Linked DNA regions of Homo sapiens: all the other regions are linked to region 3. Evidence: fine-mapped expression QTL. A gene starts in region 3. Each other region holds a variant in brackets. All regions are shown on one strand. Distances are from middle to middle.

Region 1 (11,239 bases), 81 kb after region 3:
TGTCACCCAGGCTGGAGTGCAGTGGCACAATCTCGGCTCGCTGCAAGCTGTGCCTCCTGGGTTCACCCCATTCTCCTGCCTCAGCCTCCCAAGTAGCTGGGACGACAGGCGCCCGCCACCACGCCCAGCTAATTTTTTGTATTTTTAGTAGAGACAGGGTTTCACCGTGTTAGCCAGGACAGCCTCGATCTCCTGACCTCGTGATCTGCCCGCCTTGGCCTCCTAAAGCGCTGGGATTACAGGCGTGAGCCACTGTACCCAGCCATTGCTTACCACTTTGTTAATGCACCCTGTATAGCCAAGCAACTGAGAACAGACATTGTGTTAAGCCTCGTTATGTGCTGTGCATGTTGCCTGGGCATTCCCTGGCCATCCCCAAGAATGCTTGTAGACGAGGGTCCCCATGTTTTCCCCTTAGGTCTGAGAGAAAGCCAGAAAGAAGGGACCAGTCATGCCCAACTGGTGTGTCAACCGGATTTGCCATGTCACTCATGAAGAACATAAGCTGGTGACCAAAGACAAGTGAAAAAGTGTTTCCTAGCTGGACAAATATTATTAAGAAAATTTTCTTCTACTTACCTTAGTATGAGTGAGTTGACAGATTTTCCCATGCAATTCACCACAATGTTTTCTTGGACTCCCCCACCACCCCATTTTCTACGAGACTTTCACAAACAAGTCAGTTTGTGACTTTAGTAAAATACGTCAAGAGACTGATTATGCAAAGAATTCCCTCTGGAAAGTTAAATGAGGATAAAAAGTGAGCCAGGCAGTTGAGGGAAGGTGGGATAAGAGTTGGGAGGGCATAGGGGAATTGTCTGTGGGAGGAGCAGATGCTGAAAGTCATATTCCAGGGCTTGCTTTGAAGCCGAGAGAGGCATCATGTGCTCAGCCTAAAAAGAGGGGAAGAATGTCTGTGCTCATGAACAGACCCAGCACAACACCACGGTCTGGTTCTGTGCCTTCGTAACTGGCTTTCTCCCATAATTCAATTTCAGAGCCGGTTGAAGGACGATGTTAAATAGAAACAGGATTCTGAGGCTGGGCGCGGTGGCTCACGCCTGTAATCCCAGCACTTTGGGAGGCCAAGGGGGGCGGATCACCTGACCTCAGGAGTTCGAGACCAGCCTGACCAACATGGAGAAACCCCATCTCTACTAAAAATACAACATTTAGCGGGGCATGGTGGCGCATGCCTGTAATCCCAGCTACTCGGGAGGCTGAGGCAGAAGAATCGCTCGAACCCAGGAGGTGGAGGTTGTGGTGAGCCGAGATCATGCCATTGCGCTCCAGCCTGGGCAACAAGAGCAAAACTCTGTCTCAAAGAAAAAAAAAAAGAAAAAGAAAAGAAAAGAAATAGGATTCTGGAAAAAAAAAAAAAAACCCAAGCAAACAATAATTATTAGGCAATCATATCATAATCAAATACCATTCTTTAATTCTGATGGTTTCTTCATGAAAAGTTTCTGATATTTCATCTGAACTGCATTAAAATGGTCTTTTTCTAAGAATACAAGCATTTTTAAAAGTAGTTTCAAAAGTATAATTCCCATTTTAATGTAACACGCTCAGTTTTAGAAAGTTTATAGCTGTATGCTCCACATTTTATTTATTTATCTATTTTGAAAGAGGGTCTCACTCTGTCACCCAGGTTGGAATGCAGTGGCGCAATCTTAGCTCACTACAGCCTCCACCTCTTGAGCTCAAGCAATCCTCCCACCTCAGCCTCCTCCCACCTCAGCCTCCTGAGTAGCTATGACTACAGACGTGTACCACGATGCATGGCTAATTTTTTTAAGATTTTTTTTTAATAGAGATGGGGGTCTTGCTATGTTGCCCAGGCTGATCCCAGACTCCTGGCCTCAAACAATTTTCCCACCTTGGCCACATAAAGTGCTGGGATTACAGGCCGGAGTTGTCGTACCCAGCCACGTTCCACATTTTAGTTCTAAGGAAATGGAGGTACTGGAGCTGGAGTTTCGCTTCAACTCTATTACCAGCTCTTGGAAGTAGCTATTTCACGGGCACCTGGCAGTCAGTGTGAGCACAGAGGCTGCCTCCTGCCACTGGAGTATTGAAGTTCCTGCCATCTCTTTCAAGTTTGCTTTTATGTGTCTTCATGTAATAGCTTTGTTGTTAGTGTGCTTTAATAAGGAGGATGGATACTACTAATAGTCAATAGGTAGAATGCATGCTTCATCCTAGGCCCTTTTCTCACACTCTCTTGCATTTATCTCACTTAATCCCCACACAGACTTAAAAGCTTGGTGCTGTCATTATCCCCATATCACAGATGAGGAAACTTGCCCACAGTCCTGGGCTTAGTGACCGTGGAAGCTGGGATCAAACTTAGGTTGGCCCCATGGAACTTACCAACTTACTGACAGATTGCTGTTTTGATCCTTATGGCACCTCAAAAAACAGCCGGGAACAGCACAAGTTGTATCTGCCATGGTGAACAGAGGAAAGAGATTCTCCATCCCTCATACCTAATTCCACCGCAATCTCTCCTTTTATGTAGGAGAGATTGCTCCATTTATGTAAACCTTGCCATCAATGTTTACTTTATAAATCGGGCTTTCATTCTTTTGTTAAAAAAAAAAAAGTCCATACATCATTTCTCCTTTATTATGGGGTACATAACCCTAAAAGGATGAGATTTAAAAATCACCATCAAGTTTCATTAAATAAAAACATTTAGTGAGCAACCAGACTGCCCAAGAGGCTTGCAAGGATTTACATGCATTCCTTCACCAGTGACTTGATCCACTTGGAAGAGTTATTTTTATATCTACGTTACTGTTACTGCCATCTCTATTTCACATCCGCTGGAGAATACAGCTTTCCCAAAAGCCTGGGTTACAAGGTCAGAGAAATGGAACAAGTTCAAAATGTACAGCCTTAGAGACTATGTGAACACATATACCAAGACTTCATTTTTTTTTTTTGAGACGGAGTCTCGCTCTGTCGCCCAGGCTGGAGTGCAGTGGCGCAAGTTCAACTCACTGCAAGATCCACCTCCCAGGTTCACGCCATTCTCTTGCCTCAGCCTCCCGAGTAGCTGGGACTACAGGTGCCTGCCACCATGCCCGGCTAATTTTTTGTATTTTTAGTAGAGACTGGGTTTCACCATGTTAGCCAGGAGGGTCTCAATCTCCTGACCTCATGATCCACCCGCCTCGGCCTCCCAAAGTGCTGGGATTACGGGCATGAGCCGCTGCGCCCAGCCCCACCAAGCCCTCATTTTTGAAGTGAAATAAAGGAAAAGGCTTAAATAGCGTGAAAGCGAATGAAGTCATAATAAAACAGCTAATCTCTATTGAGAGCTTTCTCATAACCAAGGCTTTCCTAAGAGCTTTCCATGAATTAACTCATTTACTGTGTATAACAACCTTACTATTGACAGTCTGCCTTCAGATCCCAGCTTTGTGACCCAAGGCTTTGTGACTTGGAGCCACTTCACTTCTCTTGGCCTCAGTGCCTTCAATTATAAAATAGGAAAAATAATCATACCCGTTTCTTACCATATTTTATGTGTGCTCTCATTTAAGCTCATGGTAGTCCTGTGAGGTGCAGAGATGGAAGAGATGAAAGCTTGAAGGCTTGAGTTTCTGATAAAAGTTTAAAGGCCTGGAGTAACACCCCACAGCTAGGAAGTGGTGAGTCTAGTACCCCACCCTCACTGCACTTGAACCAGAGCGTGCACACTCCCAGCCACTAAGCATTCGCCTGAGTGGAGGCTGAAATGATCTGCTGTCTGCAGTAAGGCCACAGGAAATGCTCTTGGAACCTGGTCTCCATGAGATATCTATCAGGAACTTTTCACAACACCAGAAATGAAGGAAATTCTCATTTTTATTTTGATATATTATAAGCAAATATGTACGTTTTGGCACAATGAGAAATGTTTAGGAATTTTGACTAAAAAATTCTTTCTGGCAAGATTCTTTAGCCACTGAAATTTTAAGTGGTACTTACGGTTGTATGTATCTGACTCGCATCTGGGTGGCTACAACCAATTACCAACTACTGACAGCAAAAGAAAGACTTGCAAATATGATTTCACATCTGCATTTTTTATTTTATATTTAGCTCTTTGTCTTATCATGTTTGTCTAACTGTAGCTCTCTCTCTCTCACTGACAGGGTAATGTCTTTAAAATCTCACTACACAAAGTACTGGCTTTGTGAAAAGGCTCTGACCTATTTTGCCCTGCCTGGATTGGTTTTAACATCATGTAGATAGTAAGTAACAAACTCATTAAACCATTTCCATTCTTGTCTTAGGGGACAACGTGGTGCCCTCCCCTTTTACATGTTGCTTCTCTTATCAGCTTCACTGGCTTTGTCTACTAACCCCATGCCTGGGGAATTATAAGGAAGGGATTCGGGCACCGTGTTGTCTGCGGCATGAATCTTGCCAGGCTGTGGCTGTCACCAAGGTTATTGGACACTCCTCCCTGAGCAGGACCCACCTGGGAGGCATGCAGATGACAAGTGCCACTCAACCTTTTCCTCAGTGCCTGCTGGGCCCCGTGTGCATGTTCAGGTAATGAGAGGAACCTCGGAGCAAGTGGAGTAAGTGAGTGTGGTCACTCCAACAACAGACCAACCCATGAGAGGTCTGATTTCACGTTAAAATGGGAAATATTTGGTTGAATGGAATTGACGGAAAGGCAGGAATAGCCTTTCTCATTCCCTCATGGATAGAAAAAATGCACAAACCACGTTATCTGTTGGGTTGCATGGAATCGCTCTGACTGTTTTATTACCACCATTCACGTAGCATTTTATGTGAAAGGGAATGCTGGGCGCAGTGGCTTACGCCTGTAATCTCAGCACTTTGGGAGGCCGAGGTGGGTGGATCACCTGAGGTCAGGAGTTCAAGACTAGTCTGGCCAACATGTGGAAACCCTGTCCCTACCAAAAATAATAATAATAATAATAATAATAATAATAATAGTAATAAATTAGCCAGGCGTGGTGGCGGGAGCCTGTAATCCCAGCTACTGGGAGGCTGAGGCAGGAGAATTGCTTGAACTTGGGAGGTGGAGGTTGCTGTGAGCTGAGATTGCGCCACTGCACTCCAGCCTGGGCAACAGGGCACCACTCCGTCTCAAATAAATAAATAAATAAATAAGAAAAAAAGAAAGGGAATGCAGGTGTGAAAGCTTCCGATTCGTCACCTAGCAAAATTACACTGAAAAGTCCCCAAGCTCTTTGAACCAACTGCAAGGTCGTCAGCTTGTAGCCTCAAGTCCTCATGATCTATCCCATTACTTCATATCTCAAAAAGTCTTAATATGTGTTTTCCACAGTGATGGCCTCTCATTGGCCACCATGTCACTCTCACCTCAGGGTAAAGAGGTTGTGTCATGCGGCTTAAAACCTGGGCACATAGATGGTTACTTTGGCAGCGTTCTTATATAAACAGA[T/G]GAAGACAGCTGATAACATTAGCAACTTCCTGTGTCATCTCGTTTTTCTCGGGCACTTGCTTCTCTGAGATTATTTATGTTTTCTGTATTAGTCCATGGCAACCGCTTAACACAGCTGCACCAAATGTCATTCCCAGAAAGATCAGTTGCTTAGTCTCCTTGCCTCCATTCTATTTTGGGAGTGGCATGGACTTTTGGCGATGCCCAGTTGAGCTCTTGTCCACATCAAGTTATGAGCGGTGGTTTGTAAGAGAGTTTGCCCCTTGGCCTTGGTCTTTAGGAGAAAAAATAAATTCTATTCATTTACTCACATGCCATCATTACTCATATTTAAATTCTAAAAGATTAAAAACAAGAAACATTTTTTTCTGCATTAAGAAATCTAAAGTTTTAAAAAATCTCTAATAATGAACTGAGGTAATACATGCATTGATAAACAAAATGGAAATAGTATAGAAAAACAGAACTGATAAACTGATAAAAACATAACTGATAAACAGCTGCCTCCATTTCACACTTCCTCACCCTAGCAACTCCTAGATCATCCCAGAAAACATTTCTACTTTTATTCCTGTTGGTTGCCTACAGAACTCTAAATAATATATTTTCACATCTCTTCTTTGACCTTTTTAAAAATTAGCCTTTTTTTTTTTTTGAGACAGAGTCTCATTCTGTCACCCAGGCTGGAGTGCAATGGCATGATCTCCGCTCACTGCAAGCTCTGCCTCCCGGGTTCACGCCATTCTCCTGCCTCAGCCTCCCAAGTAGCTGGGATTACAGGTGCCCGCCACCACACCCGGCTAATTTTTTGTATTTTTAGTAGAGACGGGGTTTCACCATGTTAGCCAGGATGGTCTTGATCTCCTGACCTTGTGATCCCCCCGCCTTGGCCTCCCAAAGTGCTGGGATTGCAGGCGTGAGCCACTGCGCCCAGCCTAAAAAATCAGCCTTTTTTTTAACACAGCTTTATTGATGGGTAATGTACATATCATAAAACTCACTAAATGTGTAATGAAATGAATTTTAGCAAAGTTACAGAGTTGTGCAAGCATCCCCACAGCCCAATTTTAGAACACACCTATCACTTCAGAAGATCCCTCTTGACCACTTGCAGTGATTTCACTCTTCAGTCCCAGCCACAGGAATTCCTAATTTCTTTACTGGTTCTATAGATTTGCCTATTGTAGACATTTCATAAAAATGGAAATAACCAATCAAATTCAGACAATATTTATTGACTTTCTGATACAAAAGATAAAGATTTATCTCGCTTATAGAACTGCCTTCCCTGTCTCTATTTTCCCCAATTTTTGGTAATTATATATTATTTTAAAAATTCCTATGTTGGCTTTTTTCTTTTTCAGACGGTCTCACTCTGTCACCCAGGCTAGGATGCAGTGGCGTGATCTCGGCTCACTGCAACCTCCGCCTCCCGGATTCAAGTGATTCTCCTGCCTCAGCCTCCCAAGTAGTTGGAACTACAGATGCACACCACTGCGCCCAGTCAATTTTTGTATTTTTAGTAGAGACGGGGTTTCACCATGTTGGCCAGGCTGGTCTTGAACTCCTGGCTTCAAGTGATCCGTCCGCCTCAGCCTCCCAAAGTGCTGGGATTACAGGCATGAGCCACCGCACCCAGCCTATGTTGGCTATTTTTGTCATTTTAAGCAATATATTCCTTCTATTTGTGTGCGTGTGTGTGTTGTTCCATAAGCCTCTGTCAACGTCTTTTGCCTCCCTTGCTCCATATAAAATGCCTTACATTCCTCCCTCTTTTCCCCTACCCTTATTCATGGAATAACTGTGAATCATTGTTAGGACTTTATTGTTATGAAAGCCAATAATCTTTTATCTTTTATTCTACAACTACAATTAAGTCTTACATGTCTGTAGGTTGATTCTAAAAGTAGAAAACTAGAGCAGCCTTTATGATTTTGTCTACATTGCTCAATGTAGAGCCAGGGCTGTGCCAGGATGCCATTTCCTTCCCTCCATGTCCTGTGCATCTGTCATGGTGCTCCTGGGGCGATGCTACTCACTTCATAGTTAAGCAGGCTCCCTTCCCACATCCTTCATCAAATGCTCCATGTCACAGTAAAATAAGGGTCACACGTGAGCCATTTCTTTATACCTTGTTTTAGATGATTTTTCCTCTAGTTTTAGATGATTTTTTTATCCTTCCTATTGGAAAAGGATAAAAAATCTTAGGAACTTCCATTGTGTCCTAAAATTTATCTGCCTTCCAATCACACTACCATGTGAAGTCCTTCTTCCCCAGAGTCCTTAATTGTTCTGAATTTAAGTGGATTTTCTCTGGGCTGAATGCACAAGCCTTCAGCCTGAGTCTTCTGTTCACTGGGTTCCTGGAGCCAGTGCTAATCTCCAAAATGTGTCCTTTCTTGGTTTCCATCTTCTTTGACTGGAGTATAACCTCCAGTAAACTCCTGGGGAGGGGAAGAAAGGTATGAGAGAGGTGAATTTCCAGTATCGCATCAAATGTATTATTTTCTCTTTCATCATTTATTGTTTGTCTACACCTATTATTGAACTTTCAAAATTGTTTTCCCTCTGAATTGGAGGGTATTGCTTCAATGTTTTCTAACATTTTGTGCTGCTGATAAGAAAACTCTGCTGCAGTCTAGCTCCTGCTCCTTAGCTGCTGGGCTGTTTTTTGCCTTTGTAAGATTTTTAGGATCTTCCATTTATTGTTAGTTACTGTTCTGAAGTTTCACAAAGATGCATTTCAGGCTTCTTTATTTTTATCCTGCTTGGAATTCAACCTCAAGACATAACATTTTTAGTTCTGAGAAAAGTTTTTAAAAAATGATTTTACAAAAATCACACACAGACGCACAGATGATTTCCCTTCATTTCACTGCTCTCTCTTTTAAAAACTCTTGCTGGTCTAATATTAGATATCCTGGATTACTTCTTTCTTGTAGTTTTTAAAAAATATTTTCCTATCTCACTCAGGAAATATACTTTTTCACCTTGTATAAGTTATTTTTTATCAATTTTAAAATAATTTCTTTGAAAGATTTTTTGGGGGGAAGCAATCATATTTTTCATTTCCAAACAATTTTTCTGTTCTCTGATCTCTTTTCAAGACATTCTGTCCTGGTTTTTATGTTTTAAATGAAAAATTACTTGAATCAGATAAATTATTTAAATTCTCCTTTGTCATCTCTAATGACTCAATTCAATTTTCTTTTAAAGAATTACTTTATGGGGGGCTGGGAGGTGGCTCATGCCTGTAATCCCAGCACTTTGGGAGGTCAAGGTGGGCGGATCACTTGAGGTCAGGAGTTTGAGACCAGCTTGGCCAACATGGCAAAACCCCATCTCTACTAAAAATACAAAAATTAGCTGGGCATGGTGGCAGGCACCTGTAATCTCAGCTACTCGGGAGGCTAAGGCCTGAGAATCACTTGAACCTGGGAGGTGGAGATTGCAGCGAGCGGAAATCACGCCATTGCACTCCAGCCTCGACAACAGACTGAGACTACGTCTCAAAAAAAAAAAATTCTCATCTGTTATCTGAATATTTTTCTTTTTCTGGTTTTTTTCTTTTTCTTCTCTTCAAGGTCACTTGCTCTGTTTACTTTCTTTTTTTTCTTTTCTTTTCCTTTCTTTTTTTTTTTTGAGATGGAGTCTCGCTCCCATCATGTAGGTGGAGTGCAGTGGCATAATCTTGGCTCACTGCAACCTCCACCTCCTGGGTTCAAGCGATTCTCCTGACTCAGCCTCCCAACTAGCTGGGATTATAGGCATGCGCCACCACACCCAGCTAATTTTTGTATTTTCAGTAGAGATTGGGTTTTGCCATGTTGGTCAGGCTAGTCTCGAACTCCTGACCTCAGGTGATCCACCTGCCTTGGCCTCCCAAAGTGCTGGGATTACAGAAGTGTGCCACTGCACCCTGCCTGACTTTTTTCTGAATTTGTTTGCTGATCCTTTCTTTTGTTTTTCAAGGTCTTAAAAACTTTTCTTTTGAGCTATTGACAGCTTTAACAATTTAGTACACTCCTGTGAACAAAATTTGGAACACATTTGTTTCTCTCTACCTGATTTCTCCAGAATTGTAAAGTACTTGCGAGTATTCTTAACTTACAGCAACACAGTTATTTGCATAAGTGCAATAAGAATCTGTTTTCATTTTAACAGGATGCAATTGGAGAAATTGGTTCTTTTACCAAGGCTTTGACTGGAATGGTGTGCTTTCCTTTAAGGAATCAAACTTGACTTATAGAGCCAATAAGACCTTGGAAAAATTAGCCTCATATTTTGTGTACACACTGTATAGGGTTTCTGACCCATGGTAAGTAAAGAATGTCACTTACTGACAGGCACAGAAGTCCCAGGTTTATCTTGAAACCCTGACAGCAGGAAATTTCACCCAACTCATGGGTATTTGATAGCACAATCCATGGCTGGGCTGGGCTTTAAGAAGTCTTATCTGAGATTCCTCTTATGGAACAAAGTTCCATCAAAGCCAATTTAAAAGCCTATGTAAAAATAATAATTATTTTTGCTGCACTGCATACAAATACTTAGGCCAAGTATAATAACCAAACCAGCCCTACCATGATTTATCTTTAGTAAAATGGGGAACTGGAGAGAGAAAAAAATTATTTCAAAATGATTATATATCTGTTGTTAGATTCTAGTCTTGCCTAATGTTTTTTTCCAATTTTTATTATTTTCTACAGTTTGGACCAAATTCTAATTTTTCTTGGCTACAAGTCTTCAAAATAATGTTTTCAATTTTTTTCCGTCTCTTTTTCATTTTTCCTAATTTGAAGTCACTGAAAACTAAGTTGTTCTTCTTTAAAACCCTGCAAGCTGGCCGGGCGCGGTGGCTCACGCCTGTAATCCCAGCACTTTGGGAGGCCGAGGCGGGTGGATCACGAGGTCAGGAGATCGAGACCATCCTGGCTAACAAGGTGAAACCCCGTCTCTACTAAAAATACAAAAAAATTAGCCGGGCGCGGTGGCAGGCGCCTGTAGTCCCAGCTACTCGGGAGGCTGAGGCAGGAGAATGGCGTGAACCCGGGAAGCGGAGCTTGCAGTGAGCCGAGATTGCGCCACTGCAGTCCGCAGTCCGGCCTGGGCGACAGAGCGAGACTCCGTCTCAAAAAAAAAAAAAAAAAAAAAAAAAAAAAAAACCCTGCAAGCTGAAGACAGACAACTTAAACTTCGGCAGAAAATAACAGTAACCTGTTTACATACATAAGGCACTTTCATGCCTGCCTACTAATGTATGGACTTCAGAGTAATGTGGCCCATATCAAATTTTTTTTTTGAGAAAGGGTATCTATCACTCTGTCACCCAGGCTGGAGTGCAGTGATGCGATCTTGGCTCACTGAAACCTCCGCCTCCTGGGTTCAAGCGATTCTCCTTCCTCAGCCTCAGAAATTTGAGACAGGTCTCAGTCTCAAATTTCTGAGGCTCACACTCCTATGCAAGGAAGGAAGGCAACATGTTTTCTAATGCCACATGAAATTAAAGCACAAAATGAAACTTGGATGCTTGAAAGAACAGACTTTCTGTAAGTTATTGTGACATGCTCCATAGTTTATTGACAGCAGAGTTGGTGATGATATTGATATTACACTGTCAAAATGTATCACCAAACATCTTTAAATTTGATAAAAGATTGTGAATTTTTGTTTTCTATCAGGAGAAGACAACATATAGGAAATTCATGGATCCAGAATCCATTTCTTTCATCAAAAGATAATTTAAACTTAACTATAATTTATGGATAAATTATTGAATCTGACTACTAATGAACAGTAGAAGAT
Region 2 (11,239 bases), 54 kb after region 3:
GTCACCCAGGTCGGAGTGCAGTGGCACGATCTCTGCTCACTGCAAGCTCCACCTCCTGGGTTCATGCCATTCTCCTGCCTCAGCCTCCCAAGTAGCTGGGACCACAGGCACCCACCACCATGCCTGGCTAATTTTTTGTATTTTTAGTAGAGATGGGGTTTCACCGTTTTAGCCAGGATGGAAGTGAATGTTTATTGAATGCTCATTATGTACCAGGCAGTGATCCATGGTTTACATGGTTTAACTCACAGGTTATTTGTATCAGAACTACCTGAAGGACTTCTGATTTAGTGGGTCTGGATGGAGCCAGAGAATATGCATTTCTAATAGGGCCTGGGATGATGCTGTTACTTCTGGTTTGGGGACCATGTTGAGAATCACTGGTTTAACTAACGTAATTCTGAAAAATACCTATGAGGGGGATACTGTTATTATCAGCATTTTACACACAAGGAAACAGACGTGGAGGATTAAGTTGGAAACATACTCCCCATACACACTCACACAAATGAAGTGGGAAGGCTGGATTTAAACCCGGGCATTCCAACTCTGGTTTCCGGATTTTAAACACCACACCATACAGTGTCATATATAATTAGTTCCATCAGAGAAATCTTGTCCACCTAAGATAGGACCCTGACAGACTTATTGCCATCTAATATGTTTTTTTTCTTTCCTTTTTTTGTTTGAGACAGAGTCTTGCTCAGTTGCCCAGGCTGGACTGCAATGGCACGATCTCGGCTCACTGCAACTTCTGCCTCCCATGTTCAAGCAATTCTCCTACCTCAGCCTCCCCAGTAGCTGGGATTACAGGTGCCTGCCACCATGCCTGGTTAATTTTTGTATTTTTTAGTAGAGGCGGGGTTTCACCATGTTGGTCAGGCTGGTCTCGAACTCCTGACCTCAGGTGATCCACCCACCTCGGCCTCCCAGAGTGCTGGGTTTACAGGTGTGAGTGACCATGCCCAGCCATCTAATATCTTTTTAAAGATACTACTCCCAAAGGCAGAAAACATTTGACAGTTAGTGAAATAAACTATATTGGCAAATCTTGGTTATTTAAAAAAACAGTCATTGTGATAATTGTCTTTCAAAACAGTTAAGTTAGATACTAAAAAAAGGTAGATGGGAACCAAATGGTTGGTGAACCTTACAAAGCCCTCCAATTTTTCTGGAATTTCAAGGTTGAACCTTGAATGTGGATTATTGTTTGCACTGCATTTGAATGCTTTTAAAATCTATTTATGGTTTTCTGTCCTTGCTTCCTGCTGGGTTGGGCAGGTCAAAAAGTGTTATATAAATACAACAGGAAACATTTCCAAGTTAAATTTCATTATTATGGAGTCTAAAATCTAAGGCACAGTGGGCACGTAGAACTCATCTCAGATCTAACGATGGCTGCGGTTCCTAATGGAAATGACATGCAATATACTATATGTGGCTATCAGCACTTTAAGGCCTTAAAGCTAGAGTAAAGATAACATTAATCCATAGCCAAGTCAGTTCAGGAAATGAAGAGGAAAAACAAATCCAGATCAGAATGTCTAATGTTGGGTGGGTCTTCAGTACACCCTCTACAAGCCTCCTTGTCCTAAACTCTTGTCAAAGGGAAGAGCAACCTATGAAGAGGTTCATGTAGGTGCAATCATGAATTTAAAATGTCCCTGATAGCTTGTAATCGTTTCACAGCATCAGCTGCTGGTGATGAAAAAATGGAAATCATCATCTTCTGTCCCTTTGTTTTTTTTTTTCCTATTTCAAAAAACTGGATAAATTCCCCTAGCTGTGTAATTTAGAGTCTGATATGTGGTGTCAGGAAACTAACCTTCAGGTCCAGTCTGGACCAGGGCTTGCCAATCTCGCACTCCTGACATTTTGGGACAATAATTCTTCATTGTGGGGGGAATGTCCTGTGCACTGTAGGATGTCTGGCAACACCTGTGGCCTGGACCCACTAGGCAAAAGTAACAGCTGTTCCCAAACTCCAGTCATAACAATAAAAAATGTCTCCAGACATTGCAGACATCCCCTGGGGGAAAAGCATCCTCAGCTGTGAGAACCATTGATTTAAATCAATGTATCCTCTCTCTCTTAAAGTATTGCCACTAAGGATAAGGTCAAGCTTTACAGGCTTTGGAAATAATTATTAAGTAATCCCTTTGATTTTGTTTTTTTCTATCCAATCATAAGTACCTTCCCTTATCTCTGGGCCCCAGTCCTCAAATTTGGAAGGATTGTGTGAAATCCTGCACTCTAAACTCCCCGTACTTCAGATGAAGTTCGTGAAATAATATATTTGATATTAAACATATTTAATGGATAGAAAATAATGCAATAATGAATCAAAACTGTTTGAAAAGGGAAATAATGATTTATAGAAGGACTGTTGTTCTTAGTACCACTAAAAACAACAGCATTATAATTAGGTAACTGTGTAGCCATGTGCTTTCAGAAACTCACTAAACATTCATTGAAACCATGAGCATTTGATTAGTCTACACTAATCCAGTAACTCCATTTGCTAGTTTTTGCTTTACTGTGAGTGAATTGGGGCAGTTTGCTTATCTAGAAGCAGCTTAGTAAAGAATCAAATTAAAAATATTGTGAGGTGATTGAACTAAGGCAACGAAATGAGAGGGAAAATAGACAGTTATGAGAGATTTCAGGTACACATCAGAGCTTCAAAATGATGTGCGCAGCTTATTAGAGAGGATTTCTGTCTGGAGCAGGAAGGTAAATCAGTAGAAAGAGGGCGAATATACTCAGTTTGTGCACATTTTGTTTATTAACAGGAGAGGCATATTTGTGTGTTCAATGATGTATATTGATCAATATTTTAAATGAATCAACATTAATCATGTTTAGGAAGAGTAAATGACATGTTTCTGTAAGCGTTCAATTAAAAATTTCACTGTGCACTGATTCTTGCTGGCTGCAATGCTAAATACTGGGGCAAGAAGGCTTGTAGAGAACTCAGCTGCTGTAGCCAGAGAAAACTGCAGTGGTTTCACTAACTCTATCCCCAGAACTGGTGTTGTCAGGTTGTTATCTGGCAGCGCGGTATTATAACAAGTCCTTTATTTCTGGTACTTCAGGTATACTGAACGCCATTGACATGTTAAAGGATCCTATTACATCCAGGCTTCCAGTGCAACTGATTCAGCTTTACTGTTACTATTTAAGTAGACAAGAAGCTTAGCCTGCCCACAGAACTCCACAATAGGAATTATTCTATAAAGTGTTGGTATAAGGCAATGGTGTGAAGTGGGGAAGAATGGTCTTAAAAGTCACAACAGTTATGACTCTGACATTTACCAATTGTGAACTTCTCTGGATCTCAGTATCTTTTTCTAAGATAAGCATTGTCCTCACCATCATTATCATCCTTGTATTTGCTATCTCATTGGTAGACTTGAATGAGTTCAAGTGTAGGAAAGTGTTTTGCATTCTTCTAAGAACTATACAAACTCTGTTTCATAATAACAACATAATGATAACATACAGGTCACTTTTCCTTTTATTTTAAAAGTACCTACACACTAAGTTAACTTATATCATAATTTTGATTATGAAAACTCATAATTATAAGAAACCTGAGTGAATTTCTTTCTACTTTTAGGATTTTAATGTGAAAATGGCAACATGAGAAACGTATATAGTTTCCAAGGACCATCAGTTTCAGGAACTGCCTTTGCCAGCCTCCCTGTATGCCTTCACACCCAATACCCACCCCTCACAGGAACCCTGAGCACTCTCTTGCTTTGGAACCAAGGAACTGGTGCACGTGGGTGAGAAATAGTGTTGTAAGGGCAGAAGAGTTTTGCTCTGAGGAAATATGTCAAGTCAGTTTTTTTTTAAGCCTGCAAGAATATGTCTTTCTATGTGGTGGGCCAAAGCAGTGTTTCTGTCTACCGGTCTCATCCAGGTCCTTGCTCTGGGGTAGAATTATCCAAAAGGAGACAGGTGTCTCCCGGGCCACCCAAGACCAGCTCTTTGCCACCAGCAGCACAGGCTGGAGGGAAGAGGTGCTTAAAACGCAGAAGCCTGGAATTGGAATGGAATCACGTCTGCATTCTACTTGATGCATTTGTCCTGTGTTTAGTATATATTTAAATTGACTCCACTATATTCCTAGCTGCTTCTTGCATGTGTGTGGGATTTTAATCCTACTATTTTCTTTTGGCAGAATGGCCCTAGAGATTGCCTGCGATAGGTAGATTTTTTAAAACCCCACGGATTGCAAGAATGGGCACAACAGTGAAATAATCATAGAGTGTCTTAAACAAAATAATTACAAAATAAACAAATCCATACATCAAAGCGGCGGTAAAGATTAAACATTAAATGAAAGAACTGTGTGGTAAGAGAGTGCATCAGAAACCCTAGGTTGTACTTAGCTTTCATGAAATTGAGAATGATACCATTAAAGTCCTCAGCAAGATTCTTCACACTGTTTTGGCAACATGATTTAATTTCACCCCACAGCTACTAAATTACCCTTTGCTTCTTTTGAGTAGAGCAGGATTGTCCTGTACCATCTTGAAAAATTCTGAAGTAACTTTCCAGAAATTCTCAGTGAAATAAGATACTGTTTACTGGAGCTTTCCAATAAGATACTTCATAGCCTTTAGACAGCACTGCCTTTGAAATGAAACCAGTACGAATGTTTCCAAGAGATGAAGACTGTGATTGCAAACAGCTCATTGAATGTGTGTCTGTGATGTCAGTCTAGTCTGTCATTTGGAGATAATGGACTAAAAGAAAAGACAAACGTATCTCAGTTTTTAGATGTTTTTTCACTTGTGATGCATGCTCTCCAGACACATACACACAATCAAGCACTCACTTTCATGTTGCACTATGATAAATACATAAAACCTCCTCCACAAAGTCTTAGCCTTGCTATCATTATATCAATTTTATCCATGAGAAAACCAAGTCTAAAAGGGGGAACAACTTGCCCTAGGTACGCAGTAAGAGCTCAGTGGAGGAATAACACTCAGACATCCTTACCAGTCAAAGGCTCTCTGGAAGGCAAGACTAACCTTACTGAACAGATTCAGCCAAGAATCCTTCCACTGTGAACCTCTATTGTATTTGCGGTCTCTGGAGGCTCTTATCTTGGTTTCCCAGCAGGCAACAGCCAAAACAAAATCACTTCAGGATCTGAATCTCCCTGGACCTCCTTAAGACTTCAAAAGACACTAATGAATGCTAATGATTATGACCTTAACTGATTAAATCCAGTCACAGCTATGTAATACCCTACAGGTATTATAGTGAGGCTTTTAGGGAGACAGCAGCTTTTATTTTTCCTCTGCCCGTTGAGCTTTCTTAAACCAGTAAGTGGAACTAACCCATGCTGTTCTGAGTGAGTAGGTTCCGATACGCGCATTTGGTGTAGGGGGTCTTCTCAAGACGACCGTTCATCATAGTCCAGGAAGTCAAGAAGACCTGGCAAGAGAATTTAATTTCTATGTGTTGTACCTCTGTTTCCTCAACACCCAACTCATTGCTAGATCTCTAGGCACTTAACACCATTTCAGATATCTGCTCTCTCAACCTCCTCCTTCCTCACTGGAGGTTATAAACTGGCTTCC[CT/T]CCAGGTCAGGTAGGATCTGTTAGACCCACGTAGCCTTGGGCACACTATTTTTATTTTTTAAAACTTGAGTTAGTTGCTAAGATTTAATATTACATACATATCTGCATTCTGGCTTTCTCTGAAAACTCAGAAGCTTGGGGATACCGAGCAAACATTGTCTTGGCACCGAGTCCTGGCTGATCCCTCAGATGTAGCCAGGATCCTTCCTTCCCCTGTGAAATCTCGCCCTGCTGGCCCCAGGCATGCCCCCGCCCACGGGTGTGCATGTATTTCCCATCTCTGCCCTCGCAGCACAAGACACCAATGCCCTCTCCTTTTGGAAACCTCCTTTGGTTTGTCTGACATAGGGGCTCCACTCTCTAGTGGCCTCACTATTCTCTATCTGTCTGTGCCCTCCAGCAATGACATTTTCCTCTTTCTGCCATCCTTTAAATGCAGGAGTCCTCCGAAGGGGAAATCTATCCTTGATCTTCTCTTCCTTCTCTCTCTCCACTCTCCCTTGAAATCTCATATATCTTCACGATTTAAATTCACAATGCTCTGGAAATGATGTTTATATCCATTTGTCAATTCAACCAAATATCACTGAGCATAAATGCAAGGGTGAAAACAAAACACCCTTTCTTTCCTTAAGGAGCTCAGTGATACAGATATGTAAACAAACACAGTGCAATTTGATAAATGCTAGGGATAGTGGCACAACTCAATTGACTCCACACAAGGGGCAGCCTCTGAGCTGTGTTTTGAAGACTGAGTAGAAATTCACCATGGGAATAATGATAAACCTTACAGAATTTAGTTTCTCCTGTTTTAGGAAGCATTTCACACTGCCTGCTGTACATCTTTACTTGGACATTCCACTGGCGATAAAATTAAACACACCTAAATCTGATCTTCTATCTTCTTAACCACCCCCACCCCCACAATATTCCCACTCCAAACACCAGTTGTTTTCTTGGGCTTTCTTGTCGGCTACTGGCACCCCTATTCTCCCAGTAATCTCCCTGAGAGATATCTTTGATCTTTCTCTCTGATACTCAACCAGTGGTCAAATTCTGAGATTCTTCTTTTAAATGTCTTTTTTTTTTTTTTTTTTTTTTTGAGACTCAGTCTCGCTCTGTTGTCCAGGCTGGAGTGCAGTGGCGCTATCTCAGCTCACTGCAGCCTCCACCTTCTGGGTTCAAGCAATTCTCCTGGCTCAGCCTCCCAAGTAGCTGGGACCTCAGACACCCACCACCAACTACACCCAGCTAATTTTTGTATTTTCAGTAGAGACAGGGTTTCACCATGATGGCCAGGCTGGTCTTGAACTCCTGACCTCAGGTGATCCACCGGCTTCAGCCTCCCAAAGTGCTGGGATTACAGACCTAAATGTCTTTTAAATCCACATCTTGCAAGTTTAGGTCATCAGCATGTTTTGTCCAGCAGACAGCTTCAGCAAGTGGTCCTGTGAGTGCCTGACCTCTTCAGGGTGTCTCCCCTTCTGCACACCTGTCATGCAGCCTGCCTGGAGCTGGCTCTGAAAATGCCGACCCTTTGCTCTAAATGCTTTACATGTATTCACTTATTTAATCCTCACACTACTCCAAGTTGGCAGGGTTGTTATTATCCTCCCAGAACTGGTCCAAGTCTACACACCCAGTGGGTACAGGGCCAGGATCCCGGCCCAGAGAGTCTGACCGTGGAGGCCACCCACTTGCTGAGTAGCCTATGTTTGCAGGCCATGTTCTTGCTCAAAACTCAGTACAACCCCCCTTTGCCTCCAAACACCGTCTCAGTTTGTTAGAGCCTTGAAGGTTCTAATAACTTGGCCCTCAGCTAGCTCTTTCTTTTATGTCTTGGTTTCTTTTTCTTGTAGAGTTTATCCTGAGGATTTAGCGTTAACGCATCAGACACATAAAATACGGTGCTTAGTGCTTAGAAGGGGCACTGTTGGCTTTCCTTCTCATACCCAACCCTTGTCAAATTCTGAAGCATCTACTTTCAATGTCTCTTGAATCCACACCTACCTTTTCAGTTGGGTGGCTTTTGGTATTATTTCTCTCTGTTCTGCCTCACCAGGGGTAGGTTTTGGTAAAAAGTTAATTGCAGCTTCCCCACATGCTGGGGCCTCCCTTCTACTCTGACTGGCCATGCTGTGCTAGACTGGAATCTCCTCTTCATCCATTTGGACTGATGTAAATGCCCTCACCCTCACATGCCACAGATCTCGTCCTCTTTTCTGATTCTATTTCTGTTCTCTAGCCCTACAGTCAGCCAGAACAATCTCTCCCTCCTCTGTATTTCTAGACAGCTTTCTTTATGCTGCTGAGACTGTCTTACCTCATTCGGCATTTTAGTGGAACAGTTGGCTGTGCTCTTAATTGTTTCCCTTTCTAGATAATAAACTCCCCCAAGGCTAAGAGCATTGCTTGTTCATTCTTTTCTTCCTGCAGCTAAGTTCGGTGAATAGTATTTGGTTTATACTTCAACATTTACTGAATAATGTGGATACGAAAAAATGATATGTGGTCTTGATATCACCTGGATCATTCATTTGATAAACTTAATGCAAAATTTGAGTAGAAAAATTAGGCACCAATAGAATTAGTAAGGAAAAGGATAACATATATATCATATCAAACATTTATATTCTTGGTTTTTTTTTTTTTTTTTGAGACAGGGTCTCGTTGTGTCACCCAGGCTGGAGTGCGTTGGCAGAATCATAGCTCACTGCAGCCTCCTCCTGGGCTCAAGACATCCTCCCACCTCAGGCACTTGAGTAGCTAAGACAACATATCTATACCACCATGCCAAGCTAATTTTTAAAAACTTTTTGTAAAACATTTACATTCTTAAATATGACATTAAAATATATTACGAAGGAAATACTTCCTAAGGTATGTCATCTACAAATGTGATGAGAATCAATTGCATGATGTGTGTCAATATAAAATATGCTCTCTAATACAAGTTTACGGGATTACATATAAAATCTATATTCACCCTGTAGGTGAATTTAGGAACTGCACTAACAGAGCATATAGATTGTGTGTTTGGTGAGAATTAGGTTGGAGAAAGTAACTTTTGGGGATGAAATTGAGCTGCCTTCCCTGCTCTGTGAAAGGTAAATGATAGAAATGCAAAGGAGTGTTCGAACCGTAACTAAATAAGGTGGGGGTTAGTCTCAGAGCCTAGGAACCTGAGGGGCTGGGGCAGGAAGACTGTTCAGGTTCCCAGTGTAGCTCCTGCACAGCCTCAATGGTGAGCACAGAGGAAAGGCGGAGGGCGGGTTGGGCTAGGCTGGACTGCAGATGCAGAGAAGAGAAGGGAGCTGTGGGGGTGGCCACAGAGACTCAGTGTAGGCTTTGAAGCTGAAGGGGAAGATCCTGGAAGTGGTCCCAGGGCAAAGAGATCACTTAAGGGCTATCCAGTTTACCCAAAGACATCTTTGACCATCATAGAAGGGTGACGAGTGAGAGACAATTTGTCTGTTCTCCTACTGGAGTCTGAGAACTTAGACCTCTGGTGCTCTAAGTTGAAGGGAAGAAGATCACAGTCAGCTGTCTCTGTGATGGGGAGCAGAATGTCCAGTCCTTCCAGGATCATTTTTTCATTTGTAAAGTCAGAGTGATTTTAAAGCAAGTTGTGGGCATGTATTGGTGGCAGGTGAGGGGGGACGGTCTTTCCTGGTCAGCAGGCTGTGAGAGTGGTGTTCTCTGCAGCAAAGGAGGATCATGGCATTGAAGATCATCTTCAACCTATGGGTTCTCTAGAATCTGAATACTGGAGCCTGTGACCTGGGATTGATTTAGGGTTTATGAATTGGCATAGGAAGTGGGAGAAGCATTGGGAGGCAGAAAACCTGGATTTGAATCCTGGCACTACCCCTTTGTAGCTGTTTTACCAAAGTTTGTGAAAGTCCTTGGCACACTGCCTGGCACAGAGACTAAGGATTGAATATGGGTATCGTTGATTCTTTCTTCTCTGGTGCTTACAGTGTATTAGACTTCCCCACATTCTCTCTTGTCAAGTGGCAAAAATAGATTATGCCCAGTAAATAAAGACATAAATCGAGGCACAGAAGAGTTAAGAAGTTTGACTGAGATTATATAGGAGATAATCAAGTGGATCTTAAAGTGTTCAGAATTTCTATGATCATTTTTATTTACAAAGTGGCTAACATTTTTAGTTTATTCTCTACAATATGTCTCACAGTCCAATATTTCTGTTGTTAAATAATAACAACAGTGAATTGCTTTTGACCACTTTTGATTGCACTGGATCCCATCTCTAGGATGCAGAGACTAAGGTGGAGAATGGGATTTAGGCCAGCAAACCCAGAGCCCCCACTTTAATCCTACCAGACAGAGTGAGAGGAAGAGGGTGGGGCTCATGGAGTCAAGTTACAGATAGCTGGCCTCTCTGGGGAATGGCTAATGGTCTACTGCAGGGCTGTAGTCAACTTCAGGCATCTAGGGGAAGCAGATGGAATGAGGTGAGAGCTCCGAAATAGGACATTTGGGATTGTCAAAATGGCTAACACGAATCAAGTCTTTACAACCCAGTGTGTTGGAACCATTGTGGCAGGGTGGTTGGGATGGGGAAGAGGTGGTTCATTCTGGAAGTAACATAAATTGATATTAAATAAAGAGCCTAGTCATTGCTTCTTCCAGAAGCGATGGTCATGTGTTCCATGAGTCCCCACTGAGGTGACCTATGCTTTTCTGTGAATAGTACTTCTGCAAAAAGATTTTTGCACCACCTGCTGGCAAAGAACAGTGATCTTGCTGCTCATTGAAGAAAAGTCACACGCTTAAACTGCTAGTGAGCAAGGCACAGGGAGATCAAAACTGACTTTGGTGGGAACATGTAGCTACCACTCCTGCCTGGCATCCAATTCCTTGTCACCACCTTGTTAACAAGTTTTAAATTGTGCCAGGTGATACACACAGGTGGTTTCTTTCTGAAAGTGTCATAACAATATGAGAAGATTATTCTGGATTATGTTAGTGAGAAAGAGAATATTATTTTCAGTGATTAAGAGACAGGCTATCTAGTACTCATTTCTAACATACAGACTAATCTTTTTTTGGAAAGCATGTCTAGGCTACTCTTATTTTAAAATGCTGAAGCAACATCATTTATGCATTTGTTTGTTTGCTTATTGCCAAGGAACCATTTAGATGTTCCCGATTGAGCAAGACTTCTGGAACAATCTAGGAGTTTCATGTTCTACCTTGAGAGTGTGAAGTGGCTTTCTGGGTGAGATTTCCAGAGAACACATTGAGACATTTTTATTGTGCTCATTTTGCTGCTCAGAAGGAAATTGGCTTTTCCTTTTCTCTGCAGGGATGAATAATCTGAACTCATTTAATAGGGAGTCAAACAGACTGAAGACTTTGCCCACAACAATTTCAGATTCAACCCATCTCTACCACTGTTCTTTGATACTCTATGGCAGGAAATGTGGACTGAGGAGTGAGAAACTATCAAAGCTGCAAGTGGTGCACCTGGAGTTCAGAACTGGAATATTCCTTTTCTTCCTTTCCCACACACAAACCTTATCTTGCATGAGGGAGTAGTGGTTTATGAGTAAATATGATGGAATTCAAATACTTTTCTTAAGGAAGAGTCATCCTGTTTTCTAATTCGATG
Region 3 (11,239 bases):
CTATCAGCATGGGGCTGAGGGAGCACCGTGAGGCCAATGCCCAGTGACTTCCTGAATGCTGCACACCAAGTTAATTAACAAAGCTGGAATCAGAATCTGGGCTTTCTGTATCTTAACATAATCTTCACCATACCATGGGTGCGTAAACCAATATATATGAAAAACCCAAGGAGGCTATTTTTATAGCCCCCTCCTGTAAGTGGAGCTCAAGACACTTACAGAGCAAAGTTGTTACAAGTTGCAGCACTTGCACTGATCTTTGTGAGTTTGGCCCTGAGTACCTCATTGGCTAGACCCTTTTCATGAGTTCGATGAGGGAAGAGACAGTCCATTGACTCTCCTTCTCTCCTTCCTGATGAACATGGTGGACTCCCCGACCTAGGGCTGGCTTGAGGCCAGGCTGGCTGGGCAGCAGCCCATGGTGCTAAGCTATAGAGCCACCAAAGAATGGGGGGCATTTAACAGGATGGAGAAAACTATCTTTATCAGAACTCCTCTCAAAGACAGTGGGTTATGTTGGAAGGAATGGTTTTATGAAGTCATTGGAAACCCCCACATGACTTCTCCTTCCCCTTCTCATCAAAGAGAAAATTTAAGTCACAAAGGAGGGTTTTAAACTACCTACTTAATCTAAAGAAGTGAGTATTGATTTTGGCAAGTGGGTGGGTTTGAGGTAACAACTTTGGAGCCAAAGCTGAATGACTAGTGACAGTAGAGGAGAAATTAAAGCACAGCCAACACAGCCACCAGGGAGCCTCCCTCTGCCCTCCCATCACAGAGCTCACCCAGGTGGACAACGTTTTAAAGAACCATCCTTTAAAGGGGACAAAATCACTCATTCTTCCAGGGTGGCTTGGACTGGCCTTGCCATCACAGAAAGAGAATCCGACTAAACCAATGCCAGATGGTTGAGTTCAGTTCACTCCTGAAGCAGAGGGAGAACAGATTATGCCTTCATGGCTTAGGGAGGTCCTTTATGGCCATCCTGACAGAAAATACTATTAAAAATGTCTAATAGTTCTTACAAAATATATAAAAGGAAAAAAAAAAACTGGAGCCCATATTTTTGGCCAAAATTTTGGCTATAATGTTTGCTGACAGTCAAGTTCAGCTTTGTGTAATTCTTAAAAAGAATGAATCACCTAGCCCCAGAACAAAAAAAATGTAGATCACAATGCTGCCACTGAATTATTCCTATAATCTTGCACATGTTATTTATCCTTGCACAAGTACTTGATATTGAATTAATTGATAATGAGTGAATTAATAAATATTAGGTCATGTTAGTAATAATCTTGTATATGTAGGAATCCTAAAGAGGGTGATAAGCCCTATTATGAGGGCAGTTGTTTGGCCATGAGAGTCCTGTATTTGTATAAAATTTTATTAGTAACTAAATTAAAATTTTTCACACAAGATATAGATAGATAGATTTTTTTTTTTTTTTTTTTTGAGACAGAGTCTCACTCTGTCACCCAGGCTGGAGTGCAGTGGCGCCATCTCGGCTCACTGAAAGCTCTGCCTCCCGGGTTCACACCATTTTTCTGCCTCAGCCTCCCAAGTAGCTGGGACTACAGGCGCCTGCCACCTTGTCCGGCTAATTTTTTGTATTTTTAGTAGAGATGGGGTTTCACCATGTTAGCCAGGATGGTCTCGATCTCCTGACCTCGTGATCCGTCTGCCTCGGCCTCCCAAAGTGCTGGGATTACAGGCGTGAGCCACCGCTCCTGGCCCCAAGATATATTTTTTCAAGGAAGAAAAGCAAAGAGATAATGAAAACATGCTCAAGAGTCTTAACATAATCAAACATGATATGAAACACATATCATATCATGTTTGAAATGCACATTGAGTTTGTCAACTGAAGTTTCACAGAATCCCACTGGGAATTTCCCTGGAGGAAAATTAACCTTTAATTATTAAACTGTTTTTGGATGCCACTGGCATCATCTAAGAAAATATCAATTCCTTCAAAACACACAAATATGTGTTGATATAATGCCAAACTCGTATGTACACACACACACAGAGGCAAACACACAAATACATATATAATTCCACATCACATTGATGCATTAAACTTTTTGTGAAAATTATTTTACGTGTTAAATTATGTTAAATTATGGGTAGCAGCTACTGTGTTTAGACAGCTTAGAAGTCCAGAAGTAGAAGGAACAGTTGGAAAATAATCAGACGAATCCAGCTGACTGACATATCTATCATGGAAACAAAAAAAAAATGCACTACAATAGGAAGTGGCTGTCTTTATTTTTCAAACTAATATTGTTCTTTGATGAGCTACAGAGTGCATTTGTTTAAGCAGTTGTTGGAAAGCAGACCCTGCATGGTAGACTGGAAAGAACATTGGACTAGAACTGGGAAAATCAGCCATGTGACCTTGTTAAGATAGGGACATTCGTTTTCTATAGCCTCAGTTTCCTCATCTGTAAAATGGCCATAAAAATTCCAATTCTGCTTATTTCATAAAGATGATGTGATCAACTCCCTCACTTCACACATGAGGAAACTCTCTTGAGGTCATATAGCTAATTGGTGACAGTATCAGGACTCAACATAAAAGTCTTTTGAAGACTTGGACTTTCTGTAGTAACAAAGCTGCCATTGAAGCAACAGATAGGAAAGTGCTTTGAAAAATGTCACATAAGGGTTTTGTTCAGTAGAAGTAATAGGACTATATCTGCCAAAGTCATTTTGTGGCAATTAATTAGGAAATGCCTTTTGAGACTGTACCTGTACCTTCAGATACAACCATCTTTATTTTAAAATCAAATACACTCTATTTCATTTCTCAACAATGACACTAGAAGTAAACAATTAACTGAATTAATTCAAACACTGAAGTGGATTTTCAAGGACTTGACTTGCCCAAGCTAGTTTTCTACAAAGCCTAAATTAATCAGATAATTGCTAATTCTCCCCTTTGTTTTGTGCTGAGGAGAGCCTGTATTTGTTAAAATGATCCTAGTAGCAGGATAAACAGTCATTTTAAAAATTTTAAAATCCAAATCTGAACTAAATGAGCAAGTTTCAGACACACTATTTCTTTAGGCACCATCTCCAGTCATTGTTTTAAAAGGCTAATTTTCTTTATCTGAATGTGAACATTAATACCACTTTTGTGATTAAAAGGAAGATTTTAAGCAAACAAATTAAAAAAAAATCAAACTAAACCGATATTGCAGGATATTGTGAACATGATTTGTTGTACTCTTAGAAAAAAAAAGCAAATGCCTCTCCTGGCATGACTAAAAACAGCAGTTAAATCTTTAAGATTAAGTTATTAATGACACACTTTAAAAATATAATCAGTTTAGCATGGCTTTAAATAACCTCCACTTAACAACTAGCAAAGTTTTAAAATTAAATAAACAATGCTAATTACCCTTCTAGTATCAAGAGGAAAGTGTAGAAAGTAATTTAATTAATTGGCTGTGAAAAATTAATTACTTATGAAATGAGACTCATTAGACCTTTCCTGTTTCATCAGAATTTCAGACTAAAGGATAACTGGTCTTATCACTTATGGTTTCTTTATGGTTCAGCTAGCATCAAATAGACTTGTGATAATAATTAAATATTTTGCCCAGATAAATTTAGGACTAGAACATTAAAAAAAAAAACATCGCGAACAAAGTAACAGTGTTACTTTTCCATTGTATTTAGTTTTTATATTTCACTGTAAAGATTTTACTGTGTGTGTGTGTGAGCGTGAGTGTGTGTGTATCATGAACTGACAAAAAAATAACAGTTAACTTTCAAATTCGGTACAGCAATATAATTTGGTTTTGTCATGTTGGGCATTAGCTAAAGTGAAAATGTGACTAAGATACTTTATGTAACATAATAACTGTTGATTACTCAGATAGTTTTCATAAACAGTTGGCAAATTTTGACTTAAAACAGCTGTCACTATAAATGTAAAGTAAATGTTAATTTAGGAATATTAACCTTGTGAATGTTTCTGTAAATAAGGCTTATGCTATTTCCAAAGGTTATAGAAAATCACTGGAGTATTTTTAGCCAAACTTAGTGCAACTTTATCCTCACTGTTTTTAAATTCTTCAGTTTTACACATAAAAGTCTTTAATCATACTTGATGGTTTTTCAGTGATTCCCTTGAGTGTACAAACTGCATAAGGAAGTGTATTTGATAGATTTACATCTTGGAAGTGAGAGAATAAATAAACTAAAGAAACAGTATTGCCAGAGATACATTTTACTCTTTTATATAAGAAAACAAAGAAAGCATTTTCAACAAGCAAAGTTGCACTGACTGTTTACTAAATAAGGTAACCTGTAAATACTTAGAGCAATTATAGCTCACAGATCTCAGGGGTTGAAGTACCAGTTGCATGCTAAAGTGAGCGCTGTTCTGTTTTGTCCTGTTTGTACAACTCATTTCCAAGTAAAATTTGTATGACAGACTGCAAACCCTCTTGTACAAACTACTAAAAATTACATCAAGTTCCATAGTTACTCTGATACACACATTCAGCATCATGTAGTATTCAGCTGTATAAATGCTTTCTAAAAAATTAATTAAAACCATTCTTTTCTCAGAACACATGCGAAAAATGCAGTGAAAGCTATAACAAAGCTTAAAACAGAGTACCTGCAACATGCTGAGCTCTTTGCAGTACTTACCCGTTCAGCAACTTAGTTTCTCCTGGCAGCACTTCTGTGCCAAATGCTTCTACCTTCCCAAAAATGTATGTCAGCACAAGCCCAGACGAAACTTCAAATCCAGGAAAATAAAATTAACCATGCAGATCAAAGGCAGACGAGCAGGGAGATGAAATGCCTGTAATCTGATCAGTGAATCAGTTGCTGAACATCAAAGGCAGGGCTGAGTTTATATATATGCATGGATATCAAAGAAAGTTCACTTTCAGCAGGTAGTTACCCTCCCACCTCCTAGTCCACAGACTCTTTTGTTAAACATGGATCACGTTGTTTTCCTCCTCTTTTTTGCAATGAGGCAATGCTGGTAGTTCTCCCATGCTTGGGCTGAGTGGCTGGATCTGTAGCTTTTTTGGTTCCCAAGCTGTGTTGTGGACTGTGTGTTGGAAGCTTTTCCTAGTGCCAGCGGGTTCTGCTTTATCCCTTTCATCTCGCTGAACTGCAGATCCCATGACATCATTCAGCGCCGTGGGACTGGTAGGAGAGCTATAATTCAGCCTGTGGGGGAGTATAGCTCAAGAGAAGCCAGAGTTTGGCTGATTTCTAATCATGTTAGACTATTGTGCCTCACACAGGACAGTTTCTGTTATCTGTCTGCCAGCTGGAAAGGACAGCAACTGCTGCTGGATGCTTCTTGGGTGATAAGATCCCTGATGGATGGACGTGCCAAATGACAGCATTTAATTGCCTCTTCGCTGATAAAAATCACAATTTCCTACAGAGACTGGGTGTCAAATATTCAGCATAGTTAAATAGCACTATGAGACCACTCTAAAAAACACCCAAGGACACTGCCAGATGGACCGATAACATTTTCACATTTTGATTCCAGTTTTCAAAGTGACAAGTCTTTAAGGATTTTAAGGAAACTGCCCTTTCTTTGAAACATACATTATTAGGATCTGATTACCAATCAAACCGGGTTGTGTTAAGTAGTTAAGCAGCAGATAACCAACAATTCATGAATAAACTGCCATCTTCCACTGGCTCACTTAAGACTTTGGGCGGAGACTTAATCTCAATCTTTGCCTTAGTTCGGGACTCTGGAAATTAGATTTTAAAGCAATATCTACTTCTTAGACATATTTCATTAATACTTGTTGAGCATTTTAAAATTCACAAAAGAAGAATTATGTAGAACAAAGCATTTGCCCTGTGATTATTCCAAAGCCATGTTATTTGCCTTTTAGGGCTGTTTCTTCCGAACTCATAGTTTGGACTTTCAACTCACTAAAAAATTACCACCTTAGCCTAATTCTTCGTATTTTAAAATTAAATATATTGCTCATTATTTAAAAATTTTAAGCTATTTTCCTTAACAATGTCAGATTCAATACAATATGATTATTTTATTTTGAGTATTTAGTAAAATAGAAGATAAGAAGAAGTTTCATCTTCCTTGAAATCCAGGATATGGTGCTTTTCTGATTTTCAGACAGTTCTTTCATGGAATGAAGACAATTTTTCTATTTTATAATGGAAACTCACTAACTTTTAGAAAGTAAGTTAAAAATATTTTTGCAAAACTTAGGGGATAGTAGAACTCAGTCTTTTTCAATGTAACTTCCCTCCTTAACTGGTTTTGTCTAATTTTTCCTGACGCGATATTTGAAAACGTTATTTATGAAGTGTTTATTTCCAGATTTCTATGATTCTTGAATAATTTTAATAGCAAAATATTTAGTTTGAACTGTTCATAAGTTCTGTATAACATTTAAATAGTCCTGTTGATTTTTCCATGTTTCTTGTATAATTTTTCTACTTATACATCATTTCTCAAAAATGCACAGGGCTCAAATAGTATTTGAACTGGCAGGTGTGATGCTTAAGGACTTCCTTAAAGCAGACCAGGAAAATTCCTGTGACATCTGGGCTTCACATACGTTTCCTGGGCATCTTGAACCCATGAATACAAAGAAAATATTTACAAAGACAAAATATTTACAAGAAGGCATGTGCCCATTTCTTTTCTGAGGTAGTCCAAACCTACCACCAGCATGGAATCCATATGCCAACAGCCTGCACTCAGGATTAAAGTTTCCCGATACACTGATATATTAAATCAGAGCAACTAGACACTCTGTAAGGCTCATTGGCTAAGCAAGTAGATTTTATGTCTTTATAGATTTCAACACCAGTAGAAATAGGTGAAGGACTGAATTCGGGTTCTTGTGTTCCACTGAAAAACATACAGGAGGCACTTGAAAGCAGGGACTTGAATGAAAACCAATCAAATGATCTTCAATTTATACAAATCTCCCCAAGCAAGCTTTGTAGTTCAAGATACATCCAACAATGCAATACCATCTCCAGTGGAAGAGTTTATTCACCAAGTCACTGGATATTATTTTGAATTGGTCCTCTTGTGGCCAAGAACTCCCCATATGTGAGATGAAAGGGGACTGAGGCTAGGGCCCCATCTGTCGCCTGGACCAGAGTGTGGCTAAAGGTCGGCCTGGCTGCAGGAGTGACCTCTTGACCTGCGGCTCATTTAGCACTGTGCCCAGCCAGCCGAGCCCCCTTCGTTGTGAGGTGTGGCCTGCACCATTGTTGTTTCTGAACAGCACCAGGAAGGGGAGCTACTACAAAGCTTTTCTCTTTCCCCTTCAAGAAGCTTAGATTAGTGTGATTAAATCAGTGTGATACAGTGGTGATAAGAGATCCAGCACTCCACTCGACATCATTGTCCGTTGTCATGACACCAAGTTACAGCATTTGATCAATGGTTCCTGTGCCATGTTGCAGTACACTTGGCTCATCTTAGTCTTTTTGTCAAGCTGCCTTTCAGCGACCTGGTTCTGCAAAGTGGTTGTGGCAGCCATTGGATCCACAGTGGGGAGCTCCAGGCTACACTTTAAAAGAAGTGGTCAGTGTTTGAGATGACGGGCATGCCAGTTACCCTGATCTGATCACTATACCTTATAGGTATAGAAATGTCACTAGGTGCCCAGGGATATGTATAATTATTATTAATCAGTTAAAAAATAAAATAAATGATTGAGAAAACTTCAGTTGTTCATATCCAAGAAGGGAGGGGCTGCCTGAGATTCCTGATGGGGAGTGGGGTCTCATGTCACCCCCAGTCGCCACCATGTGCTATTTTCTTCCCAAAACTTGGAGCGTGGTTCCTTTGCTCCTTTATCTTGACAGGTGGATGCCATGAATTCTCACCATTTTAAGATATAGATCAGGTGATAACACATTTTCCCCATAAAGTTTCATAGTTTTTTGAGTTGTCTGCATGTCTTTTCTAATGCCGTCTTTTCTAACTTTTCTGTTCAGAGGATATATCCTGGATTAGATCAGATAAACACAGATCTATTACATACATTGAGAGGAATAATTTCTGCATTTGTTTCAACTGAACACTTTTTAGAAAATGAAATAGCTCATGGTTATGAAAAGAACACGGATGCTGGAGTCAGAAAGGCCTATGTTCAAATCCCTCTTACTACCTGTACTTGAATAACAGCTTAGGCAGTGTGGACGAAGGCTACCTAGTCCCACTGAGCTTTTTAATCCTAAGCTGCAGGAAGGGGATAACACCTACCTCATTAGTGTTGCCAAAATAACAAACTTATTTCGAAAGCATCAGGCAGAATAAACCCTCAACAGAAGAGCTAAGGTTCCTTTCTTTTCTCTGTAACTATTAAAATGCCAACATTTTAGCTAGGGGATCCAATTCAAACTTCAGTATTCTAAAGGGGCAGGACAGGCTCTCACACAGCTCCTGGGCTGGTTATTCAAAGCCAAGGTAGCCCAGACATCCTCAGGTCCTTCACAATGCTGGGACCACTTGTACATGATCTGGGACCAGTAGCTGCTATCTGGGACTGTGGTCCACATAATCACAGAAAGAAAAAGGCTCAAGCCTGTTATGGGTTGGATTGTATCCCCCTAAATTCCCATGTTGATGTCTTGTCTCCCAGCACCTCAAAACATGAGCTTATCTGGAGATAGGGTCTTTACAGGGGTAATCAAGTTCAAATGTGGTCATTAGGGTGGGCCCCAACCCAGAATGACTGATGTCCCCATAAAAAGGGAGATTTAGATAAAGAGGCAGACACTCATATAGGTAGAACACTGTGTGGACATGAGGATGACCATCTACAAGCCAGGGTAAGAGGCCGGGAACAGACCTGTCCCTCACAGCCTCAGAAGGAACCAACCCTGCTGATACCTTGATCTCTGACTTCCAGCCCCCAGAACTGTGCGAGGACATACTGCTGCTGTTGAAGTCTGTGGTACTTTGTTATCACAGCCTCAAGAAACTAATACAAAGCCACTATCCAACAAACTACAAAGAGGTACAACTCCCATTTTCCTACATATTCTGAAGCCTTACATTCTCCTCATCAGCATCTGCCTCCTACAAAGCACCCCCAGCTCCAGTGGACACCCCCTGCCCTTCTGGACTCCCTCCGACCTCGTGAGCAGAAGACGCCTTCCTTTTCTTAAAGGGCCAGTTCAGGGGTACTGTTCAGTGAAGCTGAGTATGACTGAAAGTCACTAAAGGTAACTGGGATAGAACCCAGTTTCTGGCTACTGTAAATAAAGCTGCCATGAACACTTCATGAACCTGAAAGAGCCAATCCTTCCAAATGGATCCTGAGTGGCTAACTGGGTCTAAATTCAGAATGGAGCCAGGTCACAAACGTCTTCTGCATTCTCTGAGAAACCACAGGCTCGCGTGATTTGGGGACTTTCATGGCTGTCTGCTCCTATTTATGCTCCCTGATTTGATGGGTGCTGGGAAGTCTCATCTTGACTTCTGGATCTAACAAATAGACTTGTGACTTGCATTGACCAATCAAAACCAAACATACTTGCATCCCTCTCACTTGCAGAGCAGACCAGAGTGGGAATCTGGGTGGGAGCTTTTTCTATAAAGGATAACCTGTCTCTCTGTTCTCAGGGAGAGCATCTTTGTTTTGTACTGAAGGCTGGGTCTCCCTGGTTTGCAAACTGCTTACAGGAATAAAATCATTCTCTTTTTTAAGGAAGATCCTTTTCAGTGGATTTGTTGATAATACTTGTGTACAAGTCTTAGTGTGGATATATATTTTCATTTTTGTTAAGTAAATATGTAGGAGTAGAATTTCTGGATTATATGGTGTATGTATGTTTAACTTCAAAAGAAACTGCTGGCTGGGCGTGGTGGCTCATGCCTGTAATCCCAGCACTTTGGGAGGCCGAGGTGGGTGGATCACAAGGTCAGGAGATCAAGACCATCCTGGCTGGCACGGTGAAACCCCGTCTCTACTAAAAATACAAAAAATTAGCTAAGCGTGATGGCGGGTGCCTGTAGTCCCAGCTACTCGGGAGGCTGAGGCAGGAGAATGGCATGAACCCATGAGGCGGAGGTTGCAGTGAGCCGAGATTGCGCCACTGCACTCCGGCCTGGGCAACAGAGAGAGACTCCGTCTCAAAAAAAAAAAAAAAAAAAGAAACTGCCAAATTGTTGTCTCAAGTGTTTGTTCCAGTTTACATTCCTGTTGGCAATATAGGAGATTTCCATTTGCTCTACATCCTTGGCAAAACTTGATATTGTCAATTTTTGTCATTTCAGCTATTTAAATGCAGTCTAATAGTAGCTTATGATAGTTTAAATTTGCATTTTGTTGATGCTAGCACTCAATTTATATATAGAGAGACACTTTACTTTTTAGAACAGTTTTAGATTGACAGAAAGATTGAGCAGCTACTACAGAGATTTCCCATACATTCCCTGTGCCCCACTCAGCTTCCCCTAGTATTTGCATCTTGCATCACTGTGATATATTTGTAATAATTAATGAATCAATATAGGTGCATTATTAACTAGAGTTCATAGTTTACACTAAAATTCATTCTTTCTGCATATACTTCTATGGATTTTTTTTTTTTTTTTTTTTTAGATAGAGTCTTGCTCTGTCACCCAGGCTGGAGTGCAGTGGCGTGATCTTGGCTCACTGCAACCTCTGCCTCCCAGGTTCAAGCGATTCTCCTGCCTCAGCCTCCCGAGTAGCTGGGATTACAGGTGTGAGCCACCACTCTCAGCTAATTTTTGTATTTTTAGTAGAGATGGGGTTTTGCCATGTTGGCCAGGATGGTCTTGAACTCCTGACCTCAAGTGATCTGCCTGCCTTGGCCTCCCAAAGTGCTGATGTGAGCCACCGCACCTAGCCAGACTTCTATGGATTTTGCCTAATATATAATAACATGTGTTCACCATTACAGTTTTGTACAGAGTAGTTTCACTGCTGTAAAAATCCCCTGTGCTCCACCTATTCATCCCTCCTTCCCCTAGAGCCCCTGGCAACCACTGATGTTTCTAAAGTCTCTATAGTTTTGCCTTTTCCATAATGTTATATAGGTAGAATTATATGGTATGTAGTCTTTTCTGATTGGCTTCTTTCTTAGCAGTATGCATTTAACTTTCTTCTATGACTTGCTGTGACTTGATAGCTCGTTTCTTTTTATTGTTAAGTATTCCATTGTCTGTATATAGTTTATCATTCACCTATTGAAGGACATCTTGGTTGCTTCCAGTTTTTGT

Alleles and levels. Alleles are on the strand shown, and positions count from the first base shown. SD is a standard deviation of normalised expression in the study named. Not every link is listed here.
As copies of T replace G in region 1, the expression in atrial appendage of the gene that starts at base 5,102 in region 3 goes down (moderate effect, 0.73 SD a copy in GTEx).

The links. PIP is the estimated chance that this variant, and not a neighbour inherited with it, causes the effect.
Region 1: its variant is fine-mapped to the expression of TNFRSF19 in atrial appendage (GTEx, PIP above 0.99).
Region 2: its variant is fine-mapped to the expression of TNFRSF19 in lung (TOPMed, PIP above 0.99).

The regions. Positions count from the first base shown.
Region 1 is chr13:23,482,874-23,494,112 of GRCh38, reverse strand. LINC00327 (long intergenic non-protein coding RNA 327) reads right to left here. Exons shown (of 3, transcript NR_038995.1): 3 at 6,649-7,878. Among named protein-coding and RNA genes, the nearest start is that of LINC00327, 19 kb to the right of the region's middle. RefSeq lists an enhancer at 1,120-1,620. The variant T/G (reference allele first, on the strand shown) is at 5,435.
Region 2 is chr13:23,510,289-23,521,527 of GRCh38, reverse strand. All of the region lies in intron 1 of LOC124903135 (a long non-coding RNA gene), which reads right to left. Among named protein-coding and RNA genes, the nearest start is that of LINC00327, 46 kb to the right of the region's middle. The variant CT/T (reference allele first, on the strand shown) is at 5,601.
Region 3 is chr13:23,564,275-23,575,513 of GRCh38, reverse strand. TNFRSF19 (TNF receptor superfamily member 19) reads right to left here and starts at 5,102. Exons shown (of 10, transcript NM_148957.4): 1 at 4,666-5,102. RefSeq lists enhancers at 514-663, 1,134-1,303, 6,667-7,178, 7,179-7,691.